Linked DNA regions of Homo sapiens. The protein of the gene in region 2 purifies or fractionates together with the protein of the main gene of each other region. This does not show direct contact. Each region holds a gene or a part of one and is shown on either strand. Other genes may lie near its edges. The genes, in order: KDELR1, BZW1, PREX1, NCAPG, ETF1, RNF138 and ZMYM3.

Region 1 (3,238 bases), on a different chromosome or scaffold from region 2:
GGGACCCTCCCTGGCCATCCTTCCCCCAGGACTGTCACATCACCCCATCTTATCTCCTTCCTGGCCACTCGCACCAGCAATTGAGCTCTGTGAGGGCTGGGATCCTACTTCTTGTTCACCCCGTGGCCCTAGCACCTAGCACAGTTCCTGAATGAGTGAGGAAATGGGAGTTAGCATCTATAAAGGGGTCCCCATGTGCTCAGCACAGGCCACCATTTAGGGAGCACTGACAACCATCATTCATGAGCAGGACAGGACATCATGGGACAGGGAAGAAGACATCTGCCAGCCCCCTTTCAGTCCCCAGCTCCCTGAAAGTGCCACCTGGGGTGATCTGTGATCTGCAGACACACTGAAACCTCAGAGAGCAAAGCCAGGTGGCAGGTGTGGCTCCTTGGTTGTCTTGGTTTGTGGAAGGAAGGTGGGGGGCACCAGGACCTATTCATAACAACTCATGCTTTTCTAGCATTTACGACATCCAAGGCATCGCTCCTTAGGGTGTTAACTGGCCTGAGCCTTAACCCCATGAGGTAGGTACTGTTGTCATTCCCATTCTACAGATGAGGAAACTGAGGCCCAAAGGATAAGAAACGTGTCCAGATTCCCACTGAAGCACGTAGAGTCCAGGACCTGCTCCCAGAATCATCCAGAATCCTCCAGGGAGGCTCTCGTGAAGCCAGGTTAGTTGATGCTGCTGGGAAACGAACCCATTAAATTGATGCCCATTCAACTCTCACCCCTGGGGTTGCCCTTAGGGAACAGAGTCACCGTTTAAAGAGAGACAGAAGGTCTGTTGCTTTTTTTTTTTTTTTTTCCTGAGGCCGAGTTTCACTCTTGTCACCCAGGCTGGAGTGCAGTGGCGCGATCTCGGCTCACTGCAAACCTCCACCTCACGGGTTCAAGTGATTCTCCTGCCTTAACCTCCCAAGTGGCTGGAATTATAGGCACTCACCACCACGCCCTGCTAATTTTTGTATTTTTTTAGTAAAGACAGGGTTTCACCATGTTGGCCAGGCTGGTCTTGAACTCCTCACCTCAAGTGATCCACCCACCTCACCCTCCCAAAGTGCTGGGATCACAGGCGTGAGCCACTGCGCCCAGTCTTGCATTTTTATCTATTCCATGCTGTTTGAATTTTTTTTTTTTTTTTTTGAGATGGCGTCTTGCTCTGTCACCCAGGCTGGAGTACAGTAGCACGATCTCAGCTCACTGCAACCTCTGCTGCCCGGGTTCAAGTGATTCTCCTGCCTCAGCTTCCCGAGTAGCTGGGATTACAGGTGCATGCCACCATGCCCGGCTAATTTTTGTATTTTTAATAGACAGGGGGTTTCAGCATCTTGGCCAGGCTGGTCTTGAACCCCTGACCTCGTGATCCACGATCCACCTGTCTCAGCCTCCCAAAGTGCTGGGATTCAGGCGTGAGCCACTGCGCCCAGCCTGATGTCTGAATTTTTAAAGAATATTTTCCTTAGGTCAGGCACGGCAGCTCACACCTGTAATCCCAGCACTTTGGAAGGCTGAGGCAGGTGGATCACTTGAGGCCAGGAGTTCAAGATCACCCTGGTCAACATAGCAAAACCCTGTCTCTCCTAAAAATACAAAAAAATTTTACCTGGGTGTGGTGGCTCATGCCTGTAATCCCAGCTACTCGGGACGCTGAGGCACGAGAATTGCTTGAACCTGGGAGGCAGAGGTTGCAGTGAGCAGAGATCGTGCCACTGCACTCCAGTCTGGGTGACACAGCAAGACTTAAAAAAAAAAAAAAAAAAAAGACGCCTGGGTTCTGGTCTGGCCTCCTCCACCTTCAGCAAGCCGCACTACCTCCCTCAGCCTCAGTCTCCCCATCTTCAAAATGGGTCTAGTAATCCCTAGTCAACAGGGCAGTTATGAGCTAAGTCAAGGGCTTGGATAAGTGATCCAAGCAAGGTGGTAACAATATGTTTGCAAAGTCCAGGGCCTGGAGCCAAGCCCAGGATTCCCACCACAGCATGATGCAGCCTCCCTCTGATATCTCTGACCCATGGGCCAAAGTCACCCTCTGTTGGATTTGTCTGGCCTATACAGTGCTTTTAGAGATATGTTTTGAAGGCCAGGCACGGTGGCTCATGCCTGTAATCCTAGCACTTTGGGAAGCTGAGATGGGAGAATTGCTTAAGACCAGGAGTTCAAGACCAGCCTGTCAACATGGTGAAACCCCATCTCTACTAGAAACACAAAAATTAGCCAGGCGTGGTGGCAAGCACCTGTAATCCCAGCTACTCGGGAGGCTGAGGCAGGAGAAACGCTTGACCTGGGAGGCAGAGGTTGCAGTGAGCCAAGATCGTGCCACTGCACTCCAGCCTGGGCGACAGAATGAGAGTCCATCTCAAAAAAGAAAAAAAAAAAAAAAAAAGAAATATAGTCTGAATCTGTGGCTAAAATTTTAAAATGAGACATCTTGCCTGAAAACTCCTGAATTATGGCTTCTGTTGAAAAGATCAGCACATCTGGCCACCCAGGCCTATCTTCCTATAAGGCAGGAGTGGGCACAGGTAAGAAAAGGTTACCCTGAATTTATGATTCCTGCCAGGCCCCAGGAGGCAAGAGATCGCAAACTTAGCACTGGCTCTCGCAAAATTCCTCCCAGGAGTTTGTACAGGTCCCAGCAAAACACCATGGAATAAAAATCATTAACAGCGAACATTTAAAAGTAAAAGTATCAGAGATGGGACTAAACACTTCAGTCATTGAACATTGATTGACACAGCACTTCCTACCTCATCCCAGATACTGTGCTTTATTAATACCAACCTCTCATTTGAACCCTATGACATAGGAACTGATTATCTCCATTTTACAGATGAGGAAACTGAGGCACAGGGTAGTTATGTGATTTGCCCAGAATCCCATAGCTGCTACATGGTAGAGGCAGGGTCCAAATCCTTACACTCTGATTCTAGAGTCTTTATGTGTTTTGACACCAGGCAGTGCTGCAAAGTCTCAGTAAATTCTCACAATGACCTGATCACAACTTTACAAATGTGGAAACCGAGGTACAGAGAGGTCAAGTCACATGCACGGGATCATGCTAATAGAAACTAGCAGATTTGGAGCCGGGCGCGGTGGCTCATGCCTGTAATCCCAGCACTTTGGGAGGCTGAGGAGAGTGGATCACCTGAGGTCAGGAATTCGAGACCAGCCTGGCCAATATGTTGAAACCCTGTCTCTACTAAAAATACAAAAAATAACCTGGCTTGGT
Region 2 (3,500 bases):
TTAGTAGAGACTGGGTTTCCCATGTTGTCCAGGCTGGCCTCATACTCCTGGCCTCAAATGACCTGATCGCCTCAGCCTCCCAAAGTGCTAGGATTACAGGCGTGAGCCACCACACCCAGCCTCCATGTAACTTTGAAGCTGTTAACGAATTTTATTAATAACCTATTTACATGAGGCAGATATTCAAAAGCATTCACTTGGAAATCCCAACATTTGGCTGGGTGCAATCACATCTGCAATCCCTGTACTTTGTGAGGCTGAGGCAGGAAGGTTGTTTGAGCCCAGGAGTTCAAGACCAGCATCGGCAACATAGTGAGACTCTGTCTCTATATTTTTAATTAAAAAAAAAAAGAAAAGAAATCCACAAATTTATAAACATTAAATATTCTCAAAATTTTCCATTTCATGAAGAACATTTACTATTATGGCTGAGCCATAAATATACTATAATAATTAAACTCTAGCTTTCGCCACCTGCCTTATAACAAAAATCTCTACTCCAGGTACAAAATGGCATCAGAAAGAAGGAAGCATGTGTGAAGATATATTATGGCCACATTAAAATTAGCTTTACCAAACAAACCACACAAAGGAAAATCCTTACCTTCTTCAGCATTTTTGAGCCATTCTACAAACTTTTTCATTTGCTCAAGGAAAACACTCTTCCCCTTTGCAACATGTGCATCTTTATACCACTTCAAAATGGGCTCCTCGCTCAGGACTTCAGCTGGAAAGAAAACTCATTGCATTAAGGGAGTTTTAATATACTCTACTCAGCGTTAGAACCACCACCTAATGTGCAAATGCCTGCTTAGCAAACAAACTGCTGAAAAGCTAAAAACATCCATGAGAAATGGAAGATAATAATACATGTGCGCATACCAACTACACTCAACGGGATCAAGACTGGTCTGATTAGTGCAGAATTTCAAAGTGTTATGACCAACTGCAATGGATTTTCTCCCAACAGAGGTCTTGTCTTTACTAGCCACTTTAGACCAGGTTTCTAAAATTGGGATCAGGAGAAAAGGGAACAATATAACTGAAATTGGGGTTGCTATAGAAGCACTCTGAACTGGTCTTGAAGGACTACGGAAAGTCAACACTGGGTGGGGGAGTAAGATGAACAGAAGCAGGATTCACACAGGCTGAAGACTCCAGAGCTATGACTACATAGCTAAGACTACAGACTGTCTGGAAAAGGGACTTGGGGATTTTTTTTTTTTGAAACAGGGTCTCACTTGTTGCCTAGGCTGCTGGAGTGCAGTGGCACAATCATGGTTCACTGCAGCCTTGACCTCCTAGGCTCAAGTGATCCTCCTACCTCAGCCTTCTGAGTTGCTGGGACTACAGGCTTGCGCCACCATTCCCTGCCTAATTTTTTATTTTTTTTGTAGAGATGAGGTCTCCTTATGCAGTCCAGGCCGGTCTTGAACTCTTGGGCTCAAGCGATCCTCCAGCCTCAGGCTCCCAAAGTGTTGGGGTCACAAGTATGAGCCACCACACCTAGCTGAACTTTGGGAATGTATACCTGGTTAAGAGTATAGGAGGCAAGTTTGAGGACGCATAATGATGGCTTTAGATTTCATACTTCAACTTGTGAATAGGGTTTAGATGTTTTAAACAAGTATCAGTGCACTAAAAAGCACCCAATTTAATCAGAGGTGACTCATAACTAGAAGTAAAATATTTCAGGGAGCTGATGTCCAGATAACTCATCATTTGGATAATTTTGTGTTTATAAGGGTTTTTATTAAGTGTTATTTACAAAATTCAAAATCTAAATTACCTTTATAAAAAAGCACCACTATTTTCTGGAAGGCTTTCATGAAATGAATGTTGTCATAGCAATACTCCTGAATCTTCAGTAACAGAGTCAGCTCAGACTGACCTTGAGTAGTAAAGGCAGCAAGTAGAGGGCTGTATTGCTTTTAAAGGAACAGAGAAAAGATTTAGTCATTCATTACAAATAACCATCCATTACAAAACTCCTACAATACAGACAATATAGAACTTAACTCATCTTTTATAATCACTGCAAACTATAACTTATTTACCAGAAATTTAAAAAATAGGCTGGGCACAGTGGCTCACGTCTGTAATCCCAGCACTTTGGGAGGCCGAGGCGGGTGGATCACTTGAGGTCAGGAGTTCGAGACCAGCCTGGCCAATATGGTAAAAGCTCGTCTCTACTAAAAATACAAAAATTAGCCAGGCACTACTTGGGAGGCCGAGGAGGCAGAACTGCTTGAACCCAGGAGATGGAGGCTGCAGTGAGCTGAGATCACATCACTGCACTCCAGCCTGGGTGACAGAGTGAGACTGTCTCAAGAGAAAAAAAAAAAAGCAGAAAATCTAAGTAGCTAAGTAAAATAAACAATACTATACCAAGTAGTCCAAGTAAATGTCAAACAATATTAGTATTTTAGAGGGGGGGAAAAATTCCTATTTTCCAATACCCCCTTCAAAAGCAAACATCTAATTACAAGCTGAAGTTCCTTTTCATCATGTTCTTTTTTTTGAGGCAGGATCTCACCCTGTCACCCAGGCTTTGTCTGACAAAGCCATCATAAGCTCACTGCAGTCTTGATCTCCAGGGCTCAAGAGATCCTCTGCCTCAGCCTCCTGAGTAGTTGGGACTACAGGCATGCGCCACCACGACTGGCTATTTTTTGTGATTTTTAGTAGAGATGAGGTCTCACTATGTTGCCCAGGCACGTCTTAAACTGAGCTCAAGCAATCCTCCTGCCCTTGCCTCCCAAAGTGCTGGGTTTACAGGCGTGAGCCATTGTGCCTGGCCAGGCCATATTCTTGTTTTTAACCTGTGAACCACAGCCCAATTCAGAGCATTATCATCAATAGCTAATGTTACTATTTGTTTATTTACTGGTGGGCCATCCCTAGGAACCACAGGATGTGATAAATCCTCTTAGAAAAATATAGTCACAGTTCACTTATCACCACGTGAAAGCAGAATAGTTTGTTTTGTCAAGGCATAGTTCTAATACCTTCAAGTGCTTGATGGCTTGCTCTGCTACAAGCTCCTCTTTTTTGTTCCATTCCACAGTGCTCATTACACTTGACCAGACTATTCCGATGACAACTGGCTCTGGGATGTTGTTTTTTTTCATCTCCTCCTTGACATATAAAATTATCTGCAAATGAATCCAAATTTAGTAACAGAAGTCAGTTTTGATTATGTACATACTTCACACATCAAGTTTAGACCTTTAACAAAAACTAACAACTCCTTTTCCATGCAACTGGCAACCACATGTGTACCACATATAAAAAGAGACCTTTACAACTGAAAGGTGCCCTGAGCTCCAGTCTCTTGTATTTCTGGGCCTCAGTCAGGCACTGAAGAAGCATATGCAAAAGAATGAGGCAAAGTTCCAGTATAACATCCTGTTACTATTAACTCAATCTCATCCTGGTGAAGTAAGTTCCTCAAATTAGTGAAAATCTCTATGCCAGAAGCTTAGCCATAAAAAGACGGT
Region 3 (2,624 bases), on a different chromosome or scaffold from region 2:
CAGTGCCCTCCCAACCCTCTCTTCCTCTGCAGCCCTCACCCCCACTCCCCAGACAGCCTTCATTGGGGTATTTATTTCCTCCTTGGCTCCCTCAGGGCAGGGCTGGATCTGGGAGGGCAGGGGCCCCTTTTGTTCTCTGCTGTTCCCCAGAGGCTAGAGCAGTGCCTGGCCTGAGACAGGTGCTCAAGAAACATTTGCTGAATAAATGTTTCACGGGGCCAGTGCTCTCTGCCTCCTAGGTCATTGACGTTCCATGCAGATTAACTCCTTTCCGTCTTTCTCTACCAGTGCAGTAGTGGGGCCTATTTTAGGGGATCTCACCTAGGGGCAGTTTTATCCCCGGGGAACATTTGGCAATGTCTGGACACATTTTTGGTTGTCACAACTTAGGGGAGGGAGGAGCTCCTGGCCTTTAGTGGGTAGAGGCCGGGATGCTGCTCAGCTTCCTGTGGTTCCCAGGACAGCCCCTCCAGCTGGGCCAGGTCCTCTGTGCACCACCATGCTCCCTGTTTCATAGTTAATAGTATAGGGAGGCTGAGGTTAACTCAGCTACCCAGGGTCACAGAGGAGTTACATGGAGGGACAGGATTGGAATCCTAGAGGTCTTGCTGCAGAATCCACGTTCTAGAACTGTTGAGAAACCCAGAGAGGTGTGAATCGATGTGTCCATCTCAAACCCCACGGAGCCGACAAGTCGTGAGGCTCCCAGGGAGTCCCCCACTCACTCAGCAGATATTTACCGAGTCCTCCTCTGAGCGAGGCACTGGGAATGTCACAGGGAACTCAACAGGGCTTCTGCAGACGGGGAAGCACCAGAGTGCCTGCCAGTGAGGGTGGTGGCTGCCTGGAGGAAGAGGAGCAAGCGGGGAGGGACGGCAGGAGGAGGCGTTGCCGTGATGGTCAGGATTGGGTCTGGGAGGCCTCGGAGGGACAGGAAGTTGCCCCAGCTCTCACCCACTGTCCTCTGACTCCCGCTGTCCTCCCCCGACCCCTGTCCCCCCACCGCCAACCCGCTGTCCTCCCTCCCCTGCTGCAGGAGCACCCTGAGCGTGTCCCTGGAGCAGGCGGCCATCTTGGCACGGAGCCACGGGTTGCTGCCCAAGTGCATCATGCAGGCCACGGACATCATGCGGAAGCAGGTGAGGCCGCTTGGCCACAGGGTCCTCCAGCACCCTGGGCTGAGGGCGTGGCATGCTTGCAGCCAGGGTGGGATGAGGGGCTGGTAGCCACCAGCCCCAGACCTGAGCCTTCTCTGAATCTGGAGGGGAGCAAGGATCTTAGCTTCTGGGTCCTTGGGCTTCTGGGCCCCACCCCCACCCCCCAGTGTGCTTCCTCACGTGCCCTGAACCTGCAGAGGCCCCTGCCTGATGGTTCCTTCTTCCAGGGCCCAAGGGTGGAGATTCTGGCCAAAAACCTGCGAGTCAAGGACCAGATGCCCCAGGGTGCTCCGCGGTGAGTGGCTGCCTCGTCCGCCCCTTCCTGTCCACTCCCAGCTGGCGACCCAGGCCTGGCTTTGGCATCATGCTCCTGGCCTAACCCCTAATGCTCAGATGGGGCTTCCCCTCTCATTTATGGGGAACCTCTTTGAGGAGCAACAGACACAACTTTGTCACCTCCCAAAGGAGCTCCTGCTCCCACCGGGAAGATGAGCCCCCAGGTGTGCCGTGAGGCGGTGACTCTATGAGATCCTCCCACCTCACTACACTGTGCCCTCAGCCCCATGCCCTCTCAGCCCTGAGCCCCCGCCCCGTGCCCTCCACCCTGTGTCCCATGCCATGTGCCCCCCACCCCGTGCCCCCTACCCTGAGTCCCTGACCCCTGAGCGGCTCGCTTTAACCTGGGGTGGAATTAAGAATTCTGTGATTTTAGCTGATCCAACCTAAGCTAACCTTTTAGCCATTTACAGAAATGCGAACTGAACAGCAGCCTGGGCCCAGGCCTGCGATGCCTGATTTGCAGGAATGCTCTCTGTTCCTGCCGTCTTTGGCATGGGGAGTGCTGTTTCCTCCTGTCCTCCCACCCTGCCCTCTCTTCATGTGGTTTTCAGTCTTCCTCTTGGTGCCACATGTAGGCCCTTTAGGATCATGACGTTGTTTCCGTCTGATCCTCTCTCCATCTCCACAGCCCTAGTTTGCTGTCGTCATCTGCCCACAAGTTTTAAATAACTCTTGTTTTGAAATAATGTGACTCCCAAGAAGTTGTAAAAATAGTCCACAGTTCCATGGACCCTTCAGGCAGCTCCCCGCCAGCGGCAACGTCTTACGTAACCACAGAGCGCCGGCAACACCTGCTGCCAGTGGTGACGAGAGTCACTGTGCGTGCTGTGGCGCTGGGGGCTCCACACACACCTTGTTTGTGTCTCACGAGTGGCACGTGGTTCCTTTCAATACCTTCACGGCCTTTGCCCTGTGCCACGCACTGTCCAATTGCTTCCCCTCTGTGGACTCATTAATCCAAACAGCTGCCCTGTGAGCCAAGTCCGGCTGTCATCCCCACTTGGCAGGTGGGGACGCTAAGGCACAGAGAGGTTAAGTATCTTGTCCAATGTCACACAGCTAGTAAATGGAAAAGCTGGGATTCTGAACCCAGGCAGTCTGGGCGTGGAGTCCGAGCGCTGACCACAT
Region 4 (3,387 bases), on a different chromosome or scaffold from region 2:
AATAATAGAGGTACTTCATTATAACACATTTTTCATATACTGTCCTCAAATACATTGAACTAAAATTTGCCTTCTTTTAACTTGCTTGAAATTTCCTTATTTTCCCTTACTCATTATTAGTGCTTACAAAATAAATTAAGTTTTAATCTTGCTTGGGTTCCTTTTTCTGTGGCAGTGATAACTGGTACCAAGATGGCTAGAACAAGTAGGAGATACATGTGTTGAAAGGATTGTTGTGTTGAAGACAAAGGATTTAGTTAGCCTAGAAACTAGATTAAAAACAAAAAGCAACTGATAATAAATCCTGATAATGAATTATACTATCTTCAAGGACAGAGAAAAGTGACAGTTTCAGCTAGGACGAACAGGAGGTGTCAGACTGCTGAAGCCGACTCTGAAAGGTATGTCATGCATGTCTAGAATATATGGAGGCCTATCTTCACTTTTTATTTCTACAAGTAGAAAAAAACTAATTTTCTTGCGAATGAGAGAGAATATATAACAAGATAGTGAAAACTATAAATAGCTGTCTTAGGTATATAGTCTAAAATTCCATCATCAAGAGCATTTGACTTCTTACGGCGTGTTTGCTTTTGCCTATTAGCTGGCATGGTCTTTAGTACTATCTTTAATATGTTGTTTCAATTTTTAATTACATGATGTGACTCCTCTTTGATCTTCAGTTAGCAAACTCTTGATTTTGATAATATTTGGGTTCTCTACACTTACATACTGATAGAATAATTCTGTCTATAATTTGGGTATATTGTGTGGTAGAGTGTTTTATTTTTGGCTTCTGTCAGTCAAGCCACTGTTAGAGCTGAAAGTTGGTAGCTGTCTTGTATTCATTTGCAAAATTGTATTGTGTGTATTTTCAGTACATAGTTTTACACTGTTGATTAAATTTGTCTTTTTTGGGGGGAAACTTGTTTTTTACTATGTTTTTGGAATTTATTGCTTAAATCAAGAGAGAGAACTTAATTTTTTTGTCACTTCTTGAGTTTCAAAGAAATCTCTTTTGGACAGTTATGGTCCTCGTTTAATTACAAGCTTCATTACAAGTTTGTGGCTTTTTTTCCTGTATAACACCAGGTTCTGTTATAGTATATAAAATCATTAGCTAGATTTTCCCTGATTCACTTTGCTAGATAGCCAAGTCAGTGTTTTTTTGACATTGAGATTTTAGTTTTAAGCTAAGTCAATGGAATCAGGCTATCAATTAAACACTGATAGAATGTGAGTCAGAAACAAAAAAGTTTTATTTATAAATAAACTGGTTTTAAAGCTTGTATCTAAATTCGTGTATTTTCAACATCTATTTAGTGATCATGAAGTTCCAGAACCAGAATCAGAAATGAAGATGAGACTACCAAGACGAGCCAAAACCGCAGCACTAGAAAAAAGTAAACTTAACCTTGCCCAATTTCTCAATGAAGATCTAAGTTAGGAAAGACGATGGAGGTGGAATCCTTTAAGATTATGTCCAGTTATTTGCTTTAATAAAGAAGAAGTTACCCTTGTCAAAATCAGAACAAACCTGATGTCTTTCTGAAGATTTTCTGCTGTGCGCTTCCACGTTACTTTGGCCTGTATTAAAGCAGTAGAGCAGCATCAGTTATTATAGTCCAGAAAAAGTGTGCATCAGTCAGTCACACAGATTTATCACAATCTGAGGTGGGCCTAGGAATCTCATTTTTAAATAGTCTCTCCAAGTGATTCTTATGAACTCTTTATGTTTAAAATCATGTCATTATGGAAAACTTACAAGTGTAACTAGCTAGTAGCTTGCATTTGAGAAGCTTATGACTTAGATGGGCAGAATCAACAAAGATGAAACCGCCTGAGGACACATTTAACAAGTAACATTTCTAGGGAAAATGAAGGAAGTACCACAAACTGGCTAGAAAGGAGCTTATCAATCACCAGTGAGGAAGACCAGTATAACGTTCAACAACAGTTATTTTGACAAAAACTTATTTTGTGATTCCTACAGTGAAAACATTTTTGGTGATATCTGCCTGGGAAATCTCTCTTCCTAAAGTATTTGTATATGGGAGTCCTTGTTTGTGAATGTTTCCTGGATTAGGGAGGTGTCAACATAAATGTATTATTAACCATGAAGCTGCTCGCTATATTTTTGGCATAACAAAATAATATTTATTTACTGTGGATAATAATTCTAGTGGGAATATAATGTGACAGGAACTTCTCTTTATATACGCTACCAATTTATGAGCACTATTCACTGTCAATTTCATTTCTTGTCTTTTGAAATTGACACTTGGCCTGACTTACGAAACTTGTACTATATGAAATTGGTCCTCTTTTCTGCAATACCCAACGAAACACCTTTTCTCTTTATTATTCAGAAATGTCCTAACATGGATCTGTTTGTTTTAATAATTGTGCTTTTTTTAGGCTTATCATCTACTAGAGGCCATTTACTTAAGGTGAAATTTTAAGATGGAGCTAAAGTAAGATCACTGGTTTTTAGAACCAAATTGCTATACATATGTGCCTCATAGAACTTATAAAAGGAGTCAAAGTTTCAAAGCAAGATAGTTATTAAGCAAAAGGAAAAATGGTAATGATAGAAAGTCAGTTAAAAATAGATGATTGTTCTTCATTCTGTTTGTTGGCTCTGTGTTCTCCTGTGCTTCAGATTCCTTATGTGTTGTTGTTTTAAAGACAATTTGCAGGGGGTTGGGAGAAGGACTGAAAAGGTACATTAAGTGTGCTGTAAGGAAAAGTCTTAGAAACATAATAAGCTAAAATCCCATTCACACATGGCCAGGCTATCCAAAAAGAAAGGAGCCATGTTCTCATGTGGTTTACCATACCAAAGCTTGCTTTCTCTGGCATGGGAAAAATAAATTTAAGCACCAAACCTTTAGTATTCTGAGTATTCAGTTTTTAGACATAGTCATGTAGCCATTGCTGAAACTGTGCTTTGCACTATTAAAGGTAGGGAATGTCCTGCTTTTAAAAGTCATCCCTTTAACTTTAAAATAAAAGGCTAAGGTACAATAAAACAGATGTAAATCCATTTACCATTTTTCATTCAAAACTGGTAACTTACAGAAACCACATAGTATTTTTCTCTATCAAGAGGCACAGATTTGCTGAACAGTAAACATGCAATTGTGCCATTGCTCTTAAAGCCCACAGACTTAGATTTAAAATACAGAGAAAGAACTGATAAGCTCACATTTTCCTGTGAATGGGAAACATGCTACTTGACAAAAAGCTATGATCAACTTTTTTTCTTCTGTACATATATAACGTTGAAGGAGATTTACTTCTAAGAGATACCTTTGCCTTTTCTTTCACCAATTTGCTTCGAGGTAGTTGGTATCCACCTGTTTTACAACTGCTCATGGGTCAGGT
Region 5 (3,500 bases), on a different chromosome or scaffold from region 2:
GTGTATATAAGCATCCTGAGGGCAAAAATCATTTTAGCACATAGTGGTGCTCAAACATTTGAAAAATGAATAAATGGCCAATTCCTACCATCATCTCTATATACTCTTTTTTAAGCAAACACCAGAGATTTATTCTAAACTACCAAATAAAATACCAATAAAAAAATCTGGCCGGGCACAGTGGCTCACGCCTGTAATCCCAGCACTTTGAGAGGCCGAGGCAGGCGGATCACGAGGTCAAGAGATCGAGACCATCCTGGCCAACATGGTGAAACCCTGTCTCTACTAAAAATACAAAACTTAGCTGGATGTGGTGGCACGCACCTGTAGTACCAGTTACTTGGGAGTCTGAGGCAGAAGAATCGCTTAAACCTGGGAGGCAGTGGTTGCGGTGAGCCAAGATCGCACCACTGCACTCCAGCCTGGAGACAGAGCAAGACTCCACCTCAAAAACAAAACAAAACAAAAACCAACAACAAATTGTCAGTCCTTGGAGAGGAACTAATGTGCCTTAAATTGACTAACTGTCCCCATCTTTCACTGCACCTAAAAGTTCAAACCATCATACTATATTAGGCGTTTACCTTAAGAAAACCAGCACTAAACAAAACCAACCCTTATGAAGTGTCATTTTAATTTTGTTGATCCTCACATTAATGCCACCCCACTCCCTCTGCTACTACCATCTATGAGGCATGTTAGGAGGTGGATGGGGCTGCCTTTTATAAAAGGTTTAGTTAGACTATCAAATTAGGAGGGATGATTCTGTTACCCTTCAAAGGGACTAGGAAAGTTACCTGAAATTAGTTTATGCAATTGACCTTAGAGTCAGATGCTATTACCAAATGGGAGAAATACCAAGACCGGAACTTACTGAGACATTACAGCAACCTCCACCCTAGGGTACAGAATAACTCAGATGTCCAAACATTTTCAGAATAAAGTTCACAAAGGTTCATTTTAGCTTTCTGTCCCCCAGAGAACAAAGATTTACTCAGTCATCTAAAACAAAAATGTACACATCTGGTAGAGTGTGTACACTTTTTCTACAATGATAGGCATTATTAGTCTTAAAAAGAAAAATTAAAAGATCTTCACAAACCCAGTGGAATATTCCACCAGGAAGCAGCTTTGAAGCTGGAAAATTTCTCTAGTGTTCTTACAACAGTGCAAAGCAAGAGACTGCAATCACAACCAGTGTTCGGGATTCATTACTTCACTACTTAGATCTTTCTAATATACGAATGAGCTCCTGGGGAGGGATTTTGCAACAAGTTATTTCTCTCTCCACTGATGCTCGTCAAGAATAAACATGTTCAGTATCCAAGTTCTTCCTAGGGTGGAAATAGCATGTCTGTTTTCTTTTAAATCTTTGCACCTGAGTCTCAGCACACCTGCTCCTCCTACTAAATTACAAATCTCCATGGACAAGAGTCTTCCTTTCAGAAGGGAATGGGAGACGTCTCTATTCAGCAAAAGAAATACTTGCCAAAGGGCAAGGTAGTGTTGTACAAATTAGCACCACAGGCTTTGAAATCAGAAAAGTGAGTACAGAATCTGGCACTGACCCTTACTAAAGGCTGTGATATTAGGCAGCTATTTACTCCCTGTATGTACTTTAATTTCTTCATCCATGAAATGGCAATAATAGCTTTCCTCACAGAGCTGTTATAAGGTTATAAGGGGGGGGGTCAAATGTATGCTTACTCATCCTCAGAAAACTAGTTTCTTTTTTTTTTTTTTTTTTGAGACAGAGTCTCCCTCTATAGCCCAGGCTGGTATTGGCTCACTGCAACTTCCGCCTCTTGGGTTCAAGCGATTCTCTTGCCTCAGCCTCCCGAGTAGCTGGGATTACAGGCATGTGCCAACACACCCAACTAATTTTTTTATTTTTAGTAGAGACAGGTTTTCACCATGTTGGCCAGGCTGGTCTTGAACTCCTTACCTCAGTGATCTACCTGCCTAGACCTCCCAAAGTACTGGGATTACAGGCATGAGCAACCATACCCAGCCAATGTTACCTTTTTTAAAGAAGAAGAAGAAAGCATTAGTTCCCCCATGAAGCAGATGGGGAAACTGAAGCCCATGGATGAATAATTGGCTTTTTTTTTTGAGACAGAGACTGGCTATGTTGCCCAGGCTGGAGTGCAGTGGCACGATCTCGGCTCACTGCAACCTCCTTTTAATAAAAGATGAATTTCGGCCAGGCGCGGTGGCTCACGCCTGTAATCCCAGCACTTTGGGAGGCCGAGGCGGGCGGATCACCTGAGGTCAGGAGTTCGAGACCAGCTTTGCCAACATGGCAAAACTCTGTCTCTACTAAAAAATGCAAAAATTAGCCGGCTGTGGTGGCGGGTGCCTGTAATCTCAGATACTTGGGAGGCTGAGGCAGGAGAATCGCTTGAACCTGGGAGGTGGAGGTTGCAGTGAGCTGAGATCACGCCACTGCACTCCAGCCTGGGCAAGAGAGCAAGACCGTCTCAAAAAAAAAAAAAGAAAAAATTAGCCAGGCTTGGTGGGACACACCTGTAATCCCAGCTACTCGGGAGGCTGAGCTGAACCTGGGAGGTGGAGGTTGCAGTAAGCTGAGATCGCACCACTGCACTCAAGCCTGGGCGGGAAAGCGAGACTCCGCCTCAAAAAAAAAAAAAAAAAAAAAAAAAAGACCTTAATCATCTGCTTATACTAAATCCCCTTCAACATGTACTGTGTTATTCTGTACTCACTAATATGGAGTTGAAAATGGTTTATATTATCATTCCATGGTTGTGTGGCAGATCATGTTTTCATTTTATTACATATTTCTTCCAAAATGTCTAGTGCCCAACTCACAGCAGATGTTTGGTGAAGCCCATTAGCTTACTGGTTAATAGTAAAAGTGCATTTCTGGCTTCATATTCATATACCCAGATGTGTATTTTGGAGGAAAATCTAGTTTATAAGGTCACAGACACAGCAGGAAAACAAAAAGAACCTTTTATTTTGACTATGATCATTCTTCTAAAGGAGATCTTAGAAGAACAAATGAAAATGTGAAAACAAGAGTACAAACTCAACATGCAGAGCTATCTGTATGATAAGAACCAGTTGCCAGGCACCTGAAAATGTCAAGTCCTCTGAACCTGAAAGGATTGTGAGAAGAGTAAAGAGAGTGGGCAAGGATGTGTGTCAAATGGCATAAGATAAAACCGTATCAGAGGGAGCTTCATCATACTCTCTGAGGACAGTACCCAGTGAGAAACCTCAGACTCTCAATTTCTAACCTGCCGGGGAAAAAAAGCCTGAACCTTCCTAATTCCTTCTCCCCCTCACTAAGATAGTAGGCTGCTGAAGAATTAAAAGACACCTACAGAATGTATCCTAGGAGAAGGTTCTATTCTGAGAGCCCTAGAGAATAGGCTGGACTGAGAAGTAATTTCTACTGTCCAGCCTCTTAGTTGAACAGATCCAGCAGTGGGAAGGCAAATTTCTCCTTCCTACTCTTCAAATAGGATCGAAGA
Region 6 (3,500 bases), on a different chromosome or scaffold from region 2:
GGAAAAATGCATGCAGCCTTGCTAGCAACTAAAGAAATACATTTTAATGTGACTTCTAGACACCACTATGAACTGTATTAAAATAGCATAAAAATGCTTAAAAAAACAAAATTGGCAAAGATGATGGATTACAAATATACTTTTATAGTACTAATGGCATTTTGTAAATTAGCTCAATTTTTGGGAAAGCAACATGACATTTATGAAAATAGCAGTTAACACTTATTGCGTACATAATATGTGCTAGGTGCTAGGCTGGATCCCAGAAACTATCCATTCATGATCTTGAATTCTTAAAAAAAAATAAATTTTTCTTAATAAGTTCCTTCATTTTACAGATGAGGAAACTAAGGCTTAAAAAAATAAAATGTTAATAAACCTGTAAGAGTGAGGCAGGCAAATCACTTGAGGTCAGGAGTTCAAGACCAATCTGGCCAACATGGTGAAACCCTGACTCTAATTTAAAAATATATATATATACACAAAAATTAGCCAGGAGTGGTGGTGCACGCCTGTAATCCCAGCTACTCAGAAGACTGAGGTAGAAGAATGGCTTGAACCTAGGAGGCGGAGGTTACAGTGAGCCAAGACTGCGTGTGCCACTGCACTCCAGCCTGGACAACAGAGCCAGACTCTGTCTTTGAAAAAAAAAAAAAAAAGAAACCTATAAGAGGTTGAAGCCCAGAAGATGTTTCTGTCATTCAAATACAAAGCCCTGCATGTTCCCTCCTACCTCGGGACCTTTGTCCAGAATGTTTCTTCTCCCCAGAATGTTCTATGCACGAGCACAGCCCTCCACAAATTAATACCTATATCTCTCTTAGATATCAGCAACAATATCACTTCCTAAAGAAAGGGTCATCGATACTCACCCACTAGATCTGATCCCTCTCTTATACTCTCTCGAAACCTATACATTTGTAATTACACCATTTTTCTGAGCATTTATTTTAATTTAAATATATCTCAGGCCAGGCGCAGTGGCTCAGGCCTGTGATCCCAGCACTCTGGGAGGCCAAGGCGAGCAGATCGCTTGAGCTCAGGCATTCGAGACCAGCCCGGCCAACATGGTGAAACCCAGTCTATACAAAAAATACAGGCCGGGCGCGGGGGCTCACGCCTGTAATCCCAACACTTTGGTAGGCCGAGGTGGGTGGATCACCTGAGGTTGGGAGTTCGAGACCAGCCTGACCAACATGGTGAAACCCCCGTCTCTATTAAAAATACAAAATTAGCCAGGCCTGGTGGCGCATGCCTTTAATCCCAGCTACTTGGGAGGCTGAGGCAGGAAAATCGCTTAAACCCGGGAGACGGAGGTTGCAGTGAGCCGAGATCGCGCCATTGCACTCCAGCCTGGCCAACAAGAGCAAAACTCCGTCTCAAAAAAAAAAAAAAAAAAAAAAAAGTTAGTTGGGTGTGGTGGTGGCACATGCCTGTAGTCCCAGCTACTGGGAAGGCTAAAGGGGGATTACTTGAGCCCAGAGAGGTCAAGGCTGCAGTGAGCCATGATCATGCCACTGCACTCTAGCCTGGGCAACAGAGCAACAGAGAAAGACCCTGTCTCAAATATATATATAAAATAATAAAATAGAGGTATTCAGGTCTCTTATGTCCAATTTTACTGTTCCTTCCCCTGTACAACCAAAGATTTTATATATATATATATATATATCTCAATCACTAACACCCAGCTCCAAGAGGGCAGGGATCCTATCTATTTGCTCTTTACAATATCCCTGGCACCTAACAGTGCTAGGCACCTATTAGGCAGTCCTAATATTTGCTAAAGCAATGAATGCCAATTTACCTTAATTTAAAAAGTATTAAATCCCTTAACCAAAAGATATAATTGACAGTTCTCAAATCAAAACCTTGAGCACTTTCCATGAACAAGACACTTCACTAGAGCTGCAATTATTCTTGTGTGATGTATCAGAAATATTTGTTTGTATCTACCCTTTGACCCAGCAATTCCATTTGTCAGAATTTAGCTGGCAGGAAAAACTCTCATATGTGAAACGATATATTAGTAGGCTTAAGTAAGTAACAGGAGATCTTGGATGCTTTCTTTATAAAGCTTGCAGCCTAACCAGTGAAACTGACATTGGTCAAATTATCTGATTCCAAAAATGTTATGATTACAAACTGTGATAACAGGTACAAAGAATGGCCGGGTGCAGTGGCTCACACCTGTAATCCTAGCACTTTGGGAGGCCGAGGCGGGGCAGATCATTTGGGGTCAGGAGTTGGAGACCAGCCTGACCAACATGGTGCAACACCATCTCTACTAAAAATACAAAAAAATTAGCCGGGTATAGTGGTGCATGCCTGTAGTTCCAGCTACACGGGAGATTGGGGCAGGAGAATCTCTTGAACCCAATGGGTGGAGGTTGCGGTGAGCCAAGACTGCACCACTGCACTCCAGTCTGGGCAACAGAGCGAGATTTTGTCTAAAAATAAAATAAAATAGAGATATTCAGGTCTCTTATCTCCAATTTTACTGTTCCTTCCTCTGTACAACCAAGCATGTTTCTTCAGACATAAAACGAATTATTCTCATCTCACTTTGGGCTGGAATGGATCAAAGTGCTAGACAGAACTTATTTCAAAACAAAGCAGAAGTAGGAAGGAAAAAGGTACAAATCAAGAATTACTAAAACTAATTTTCATGTTCCTGAAAAGGCCCGTATCTTCAGAACAGGGCATTACCCTATAACCAAAAAAGGTCTCTTTACATTTCTCTCAACTTTAAACTAGCAGATGCTAGACGAATTTCCATTACGCATTCTCCCAACAAAAGGCTAATCAACAACACTGGGAGAGGAAAAACAATATTCCCACTCATCATGCTCCCAATTTCAGTATAAATTAAATAATTTAAAATCTGGCACTTAGTCTATCTATTTTCCGAGTCGATAATCGAGATCATTCCCCAAAAAAACTTCAAAAAAAAAAAAAATCAAAGGTTGTAAACTAGTCCTCAAGATTTAAAATTAAGTAAATCTTTTTTTTTTTTTTTTTGAAACGGAGTCTCACTCTGTCGCCCGGGCTGGAGTGCAGTGGCACCATCTCAGCTCACTGCAAGCTCCACCTCCCGGGTTCATGCCATTCTCCTGCCTCAGCCTCCCGAACAGCTGGGATTACAGGCGCCTGCCGCCACACCCGGCTAATTTTTTTGTATTTTTAGTAGAGACAGGGTTTCACTGTGTTAGCCAGGATGGTCTCGATCTCCTGACCTTGTGATCCGCCTGCCTCGGCCTCCCAAAGTGCTGGGATGACAGGCGTGAGCCACTGCGCCCGGCCTCAACCTTTATTATATAATTAAATAGCACAGATTTTAGGAAAGAAGAAAATTATTTTAAAGTATATACTTAGAGCATAACTACTCAAGTAACAAGATACCAATAAAGCTGTTAAAATTACAAAGCCAGGTGCTGTGGCACTCACCTGTAGTCCCCACTACTCAGGAGGCTCAGGTGGGAGGACTGCTTGAGACCAGG
Region 7 (3,500 bases), on a different chromosome or scaffold from region 2:
TAATCTACAACTCCTCCCCATCTTCACAGGGCATCCTTAAGGGATCACACCCTTATCACTTCTAGACATCTTCAGCTGAATCACAGGCCCAGCCCCTTCTCCCCTTTCCCCTCCTCCTCCCTGTCCCTGCCTCCCCACACCCCCCATCCCCAAGTACTTACGGCCAAAGCGCAGCTCATCACCCTTGCTGGTTTCTCCATTGGCATATTTTGACTGCACCCAGCACTTCCAAGCATTGACACCATATGAATAGTTGAGCCCGGTACAACTAGGCTGACTGCTCATGGAGTCCCGGGAGCAGCTTTCGGAAAGCACCAGCCGCTTTTGACCCTGGAGGGGAAGAGAAAGCAGGGGCATGGCAGAGGTAAGGCCAGAGGCAAGGTGAAAGCTAGTCAGCACCATATTTACTGCTGGCCGGGGCAGGGGCTGATGTAAGCACACAGCAAGCTTCCATAGCACAGAGCCCCAGGAACAGCTTTGATGACCTTGTGAGATGGGGGGAGAGCAAAGTTTGGCTTTATCTCAGTACTTCTAGTGTTGGAGAAAGGAGGTTAGGGAAGGTCAAACTATGGTTGCTGGCTTGGCTCTCGCATCATCTCCCCTTTGGGCCTCCATTCTTCTTTTGTACATACAGTAGCCCCAGCCCTACCTTCCTCATGGTTCGGGGAAGGTCTTGTTCAGTAGACACATCCTCAGGCCCTACCAGGCCACAATCAAAGAGGAAGTCTACACTGGGATTAATGTCCAGAGGATCTAATGAAAAGGAAAGAAAGAAGAAATCAATTTCTTAAGATCTCAACCCTGCAGCCCTCCTGCCCCACCCCTGCTACTTGCCCACTTGACACTAGATGAGCCAAAGGAACCAGTAAAGCTATACCAAAAAGCATGCTCAGAGGCACAGAAACGCAAAACACAGCAATGTGAACTACTGAACCGTAAACATGTTGAACATGGTAAAATTTTATGTTTTTTTTCAGCTTAAAAATTAAAAAAAAAAAAAAAAAAAAAAAAGCATGACTCAGAAGTCTAAAAGAGTGCACCTGTCCTGGTGTCTCTGGCACTGCTCCCTGTGAGAACCTTCCGTCTTAGAATCACAATGAACACTTTTCAGGGTCATGCTCAGGGACACAAGGGACACTCCCTTCCTGATGGCACAAATGCTACCATACTCAGTGGGCATGGCTCCAATCTTACTCACTCTTAGGGAAGTCTGCCTCCAAGTCTTGCCCAGGCTCATCCAAGACATTGGCCATCTTGACTGCCATGGCCAGGACATCATCTCGAGCAGGCCCAAACAGGTCACAGTCTTCCAGGAGTCCCTCTGCACTCTGGTTGCTCACAAGATCTGGGAAGCAGAGAAGTTGGCTCAGTGGTTACAAGCTCCTGCTAGCACCCTCACAAGCTTTCAGGGACTGATCCCAACTATCCTCCCATTCTACTAGGCACCAAGATCACCAATACCACCCCCTCGGGCAGAGACATGCTGGTAGCACCCTGTCTCCCTCGTCGCCACCATCTATGGCATACCACAAAGGTCAGATGAGGCCTTGTCTAACTCCTCAGCCTCTGCAATCATTTCTGCCATAGCCAGGATGTCGGCCTCCAAGGGGTTGGAAGGGATCTTCACCTTCAGCTCCTCAATGGTCTCTACAATCTTGTCTGTGCTCTCCAAGGTAGTGGGCAAGAACATGGGCACAGGCACCTGGAGGCACGAATCCCAACTAAATGCCAAGAACCACACCAGCAGTTGGGGGGAAGTTGGGGGGACAGATGATGAGTGAAGGGGGACAGTTGATGAGAGTAAGGGGAAAGGAGGACCCAGCCAGGAAGGGCAGGGAAACTCACCGGGATAGGCATCGAGAAAGGCACCGGGACTTTCTGGCAGTACAGATGCATAGGCACTGGCACGAAGATGGGCACTGGGATGGGCAGCACGATCACCTGTGGCTTCCACTCTTCTGTGGATAAGAAAGGGGTCTTCTCAGAGACCCTGCTGGACTGGTCACATCTGACCCACCAAAAGCTCTAACATGCTCAGTGTCACAAAACTGCCCTTGAATCAAAGGCTGAAAGACACCTCTATGATTCTAGGACAACCATATGAATGAGGCTTCAGCTACCTAAGAAATCCCCTTGTCCAGCTCACGGACATAGGGCTGGCAGGCCTAGGACTCTGGAATACAGCCTGTGGCATCGAGGTACCCTGGCTCACCTGTTTGACTTCCTTTGGACTTCATCTCCACCTTGCAGGAGACGCCCCGATTCTGCATCAGTGGCTTACACATGGCAGCCTTGTTTTTGCGGGGTGTTGCTGGGGGTGGTGGGGGTGGAGGGGTGGGAGCAGTGGGAGCTGATCGGGTCTTCACAGGGATCTGCAAAGACAGAGGAACATTTGTGCCACCAACCGCCGTACCCTCCTCTGAGATTATCCTCCCCCTTGGCTTTTGCCCCGACCTTGCCCAAATTCCCATTTTCCTCTGGGGTCCTCACTGTGTTGCTGTTCTCCACTTTGGTTTGAGAGGGTGTCTGGGGTTTTGACTCAGGAGACTGACCTGTAGATCAAAACAAATGAATGCTCTCATCCAAGGGACTAGCTCTCCATTTTCCTTACCCCTGTTCCAGGAGAGCTTCATTAACAGGTACACCAAATACAGATGGGAACTTCTAGGATTTGACCCCCTTGCCATCCCAGATCTAGTCTCCTCTATGCCCCAGCAATAGCAGCCTAAAAGATTATTTGTTCCTGGAGAATGAAACATTACATTTTCCCCCAAAACCCACATTTGAGACCTTCCACTTAGATAGCCTGAAGAGTCTGTTATCCCTGGAGTTGTGGAGGGGCAGGGGTAACATTCTAGAAATAGCAGTCTTCAGTCTCACTAAATGTAGAGTTTATGCTGAGATTTCCTTATCTCAGAAACGTAACCATAACCCCTATATGCTCCATCCTACCAGGAAAGGCACCCACTCCCTAACAATATATATTTCATAGACAATCAGTAGATGCTAACTCCAAGAAGCTTTAAATAAGACTCCCCCGGTACCTGCAGGGTTCGGAAGCTAAAAGAGAATACAGTTCACAGTACTAGCACCCTATCTGGCCAGGGGTGAGCTGAACGCAAGAGGAAGGAGAAAGGGGCTAGGCTTAGGATTAGGAGAGTCCAGGCTCCCTCTAACAGAGTGTACCCCCTGCCTGGGACTCACTGTTCAGGAGGCTCTCGGGCCCACTCTGGGTATCCAGGTTGGGTTGGTTCTGCTGGCTATAGAAACGCAGAAGACACTGCTGGTTGCAGAAATGACGGATCTGCCCACGCCAGTGGATGGTCTCCAGCAGCTTCCCCTGGCGCTTACACGCATGGCACCGGGCAGCCTGAGGATGTCAAAAGGATGGTCAGACCTGCCTCCCTAAAATGCGTTGGGCCCTTTCTTTCCCCCGGGATAAGCCATGCTCCTCCCCTTGGAGATCGGGCCAGCTTAGAGATGGAAGGCTGGCTGCCCTC

Evidence for each region.
Region 1: the proteins of BZW1 (region 2) and KDELR1 purify together in Homo sapiens (affinity purification with mass spectrometry; one large-scale study listed by BioGRID and IntAct). This does not show direct contact.
Region 3: the proteins of BZW1 (region 2) and PREX1 purify together in Homo sapiens (affinity purification with mass spectrometry; one large-scale study listed by BioGRID and IntAct). This does not show direct contact.
Region 4: the proteins of BZW1 (region 2) and NCAPG fractionate together in Homo sapiens (co-fractionation; one large-scale study listed by BioGRID). This does not show direct contact.
Region 5: the proteins of BZW1 (region 2) and ETF1 fractionate together in Homo sapiens (co-fractionation; one large-scale study listed by BioGRID). This does not show direct contact.
Region 6: the proteins of BZW1 (region 2) and RNF138 purify together in Homo sapiens (affinity purification with mass spectrometry; 3 studies listed by BioGRID and IntAct, with this or other methods). This does not show direct contact.
Region 7: the proteins of BZW1 (region 2) and ZMYM3 fractionate together in Homo sapiens (co-fractionation; one large-scale study listed by BioGRID). This does not show direct contact.

The regions. Positions count from the first base shown.
Region 1 is NC_000019.10:48,385,314-48,388,551, forward strand, and holds part of KDELR1 (ER lumen protein-retaining receptor 1), read right to left. Parts: intron 1-3,238. UniProt on the Homo sapiens protein: Receptor for the C-terminal sequence motif K-D-E-L that is present on endoplasmic reticulum resident proteins and that mediates their recycling from the Golgi back to the endoplasmic reticulum.
Region 2 is NC_000002.12:200,818,410-200,821,909, reverse strand, and holds part of BZW1 (eIF5-mimic protein 2), read right to left. Parts: intron 3,156-3,500; coding exon 3,009-3,155; intron 1,929-3,008; coding exon 1,790-1,928; intron 728-1,789; coding exon 605-727; intron 1-604. UniProt on the Homo sapiens protein: Translation initiation regulator which represses repeat-associated non-AUG (RAN) initiated translation probably by acting as a competitive inhibitor of eukaryotic translation initiation factor 5 (EIF5) function.
Region 3 is NC_000020.11:48,626,376-48,628,999, reverse strand, and holds part of PREX1 (phosphatidylinositol 3,4,5-trisphosphate-dependent Rac exchanger 1 protein), read left to right. Parts: intron 1-1,036; coding exon 1,037-1,139; intron 1,140-1,384; coding exon 1,385-1,452; intron 1,453-2,624.
Region 4 is NC_000004.12:17,841,979-17,845,365, forward strand, and holds the end of NCAPG (condensin complex subunit 3), read left to right. Parts: exon of another isoform or gene 1-331; coding exon 332-401; exon of another isoform or gene 402-1,323; coding exon 1,324-1,447; 3' UTR 1,448-2,887; downstream 2,888-3,387. UniProt on the Homo sapiens protein: Regulatory subunit of the condensin complex, a complex required for conversion of interphase chromatin into mitotic-like condense chromosomes.
Region 5 is NC_000005.10:138,533,237-138,536,736, forward strand, and holds part of ETF1 (eukaryotic peptide chain release factor subunit 1), read right to left. Parts: intron 1-3,500. UniProt on the Homo sapiens protein: Component of the eRF1-eRF3-GTP ternary complex, a ternary complex that mediates translation termination in response to the termination codons. The eRF1-eRF3-GTP complex binds to a stop codon in the ribosomal A-site.
Region 6 is NC_000018.10:32,098,374-32,101,873, reverse strand, and holds part of RNF138 (E3 ubiquitin-protein ligase RNF138), read right to left. Parts: intron 1-3,500. UniProt on the Homo sapiens protein: E3 ubiquitin-protein ligase involved in DNA damage response by promoting DNA resection and homologous recombination.
Region 7 is NC_000023.11:71,244,141-71,247,640, forward strand, and holds part of ZMYM3 (zinc finger MYM-type protein 3), read right to left. Parts: intron 3,371-3,500; coding exon 3,205-3,370; intron 2,553-3,204; coding exon 2,455-2,552; intron 2,373-2,454; coding exon 2,213-2,372; intron 1,959-2,212; coding exon 1,846-1,958; intron 1,703-1,845; coding exon 1,528-1,702; intron 1,346-1,527; coding exon 1,199-1,345; intron 754-1,198; coding exon 650-753; intron 331-649; coding exon 162-330; intron 1-161. UniProt on the Homo sapiens protein: Plays a role in the regulation of cell morphology and cytoskeletal organization.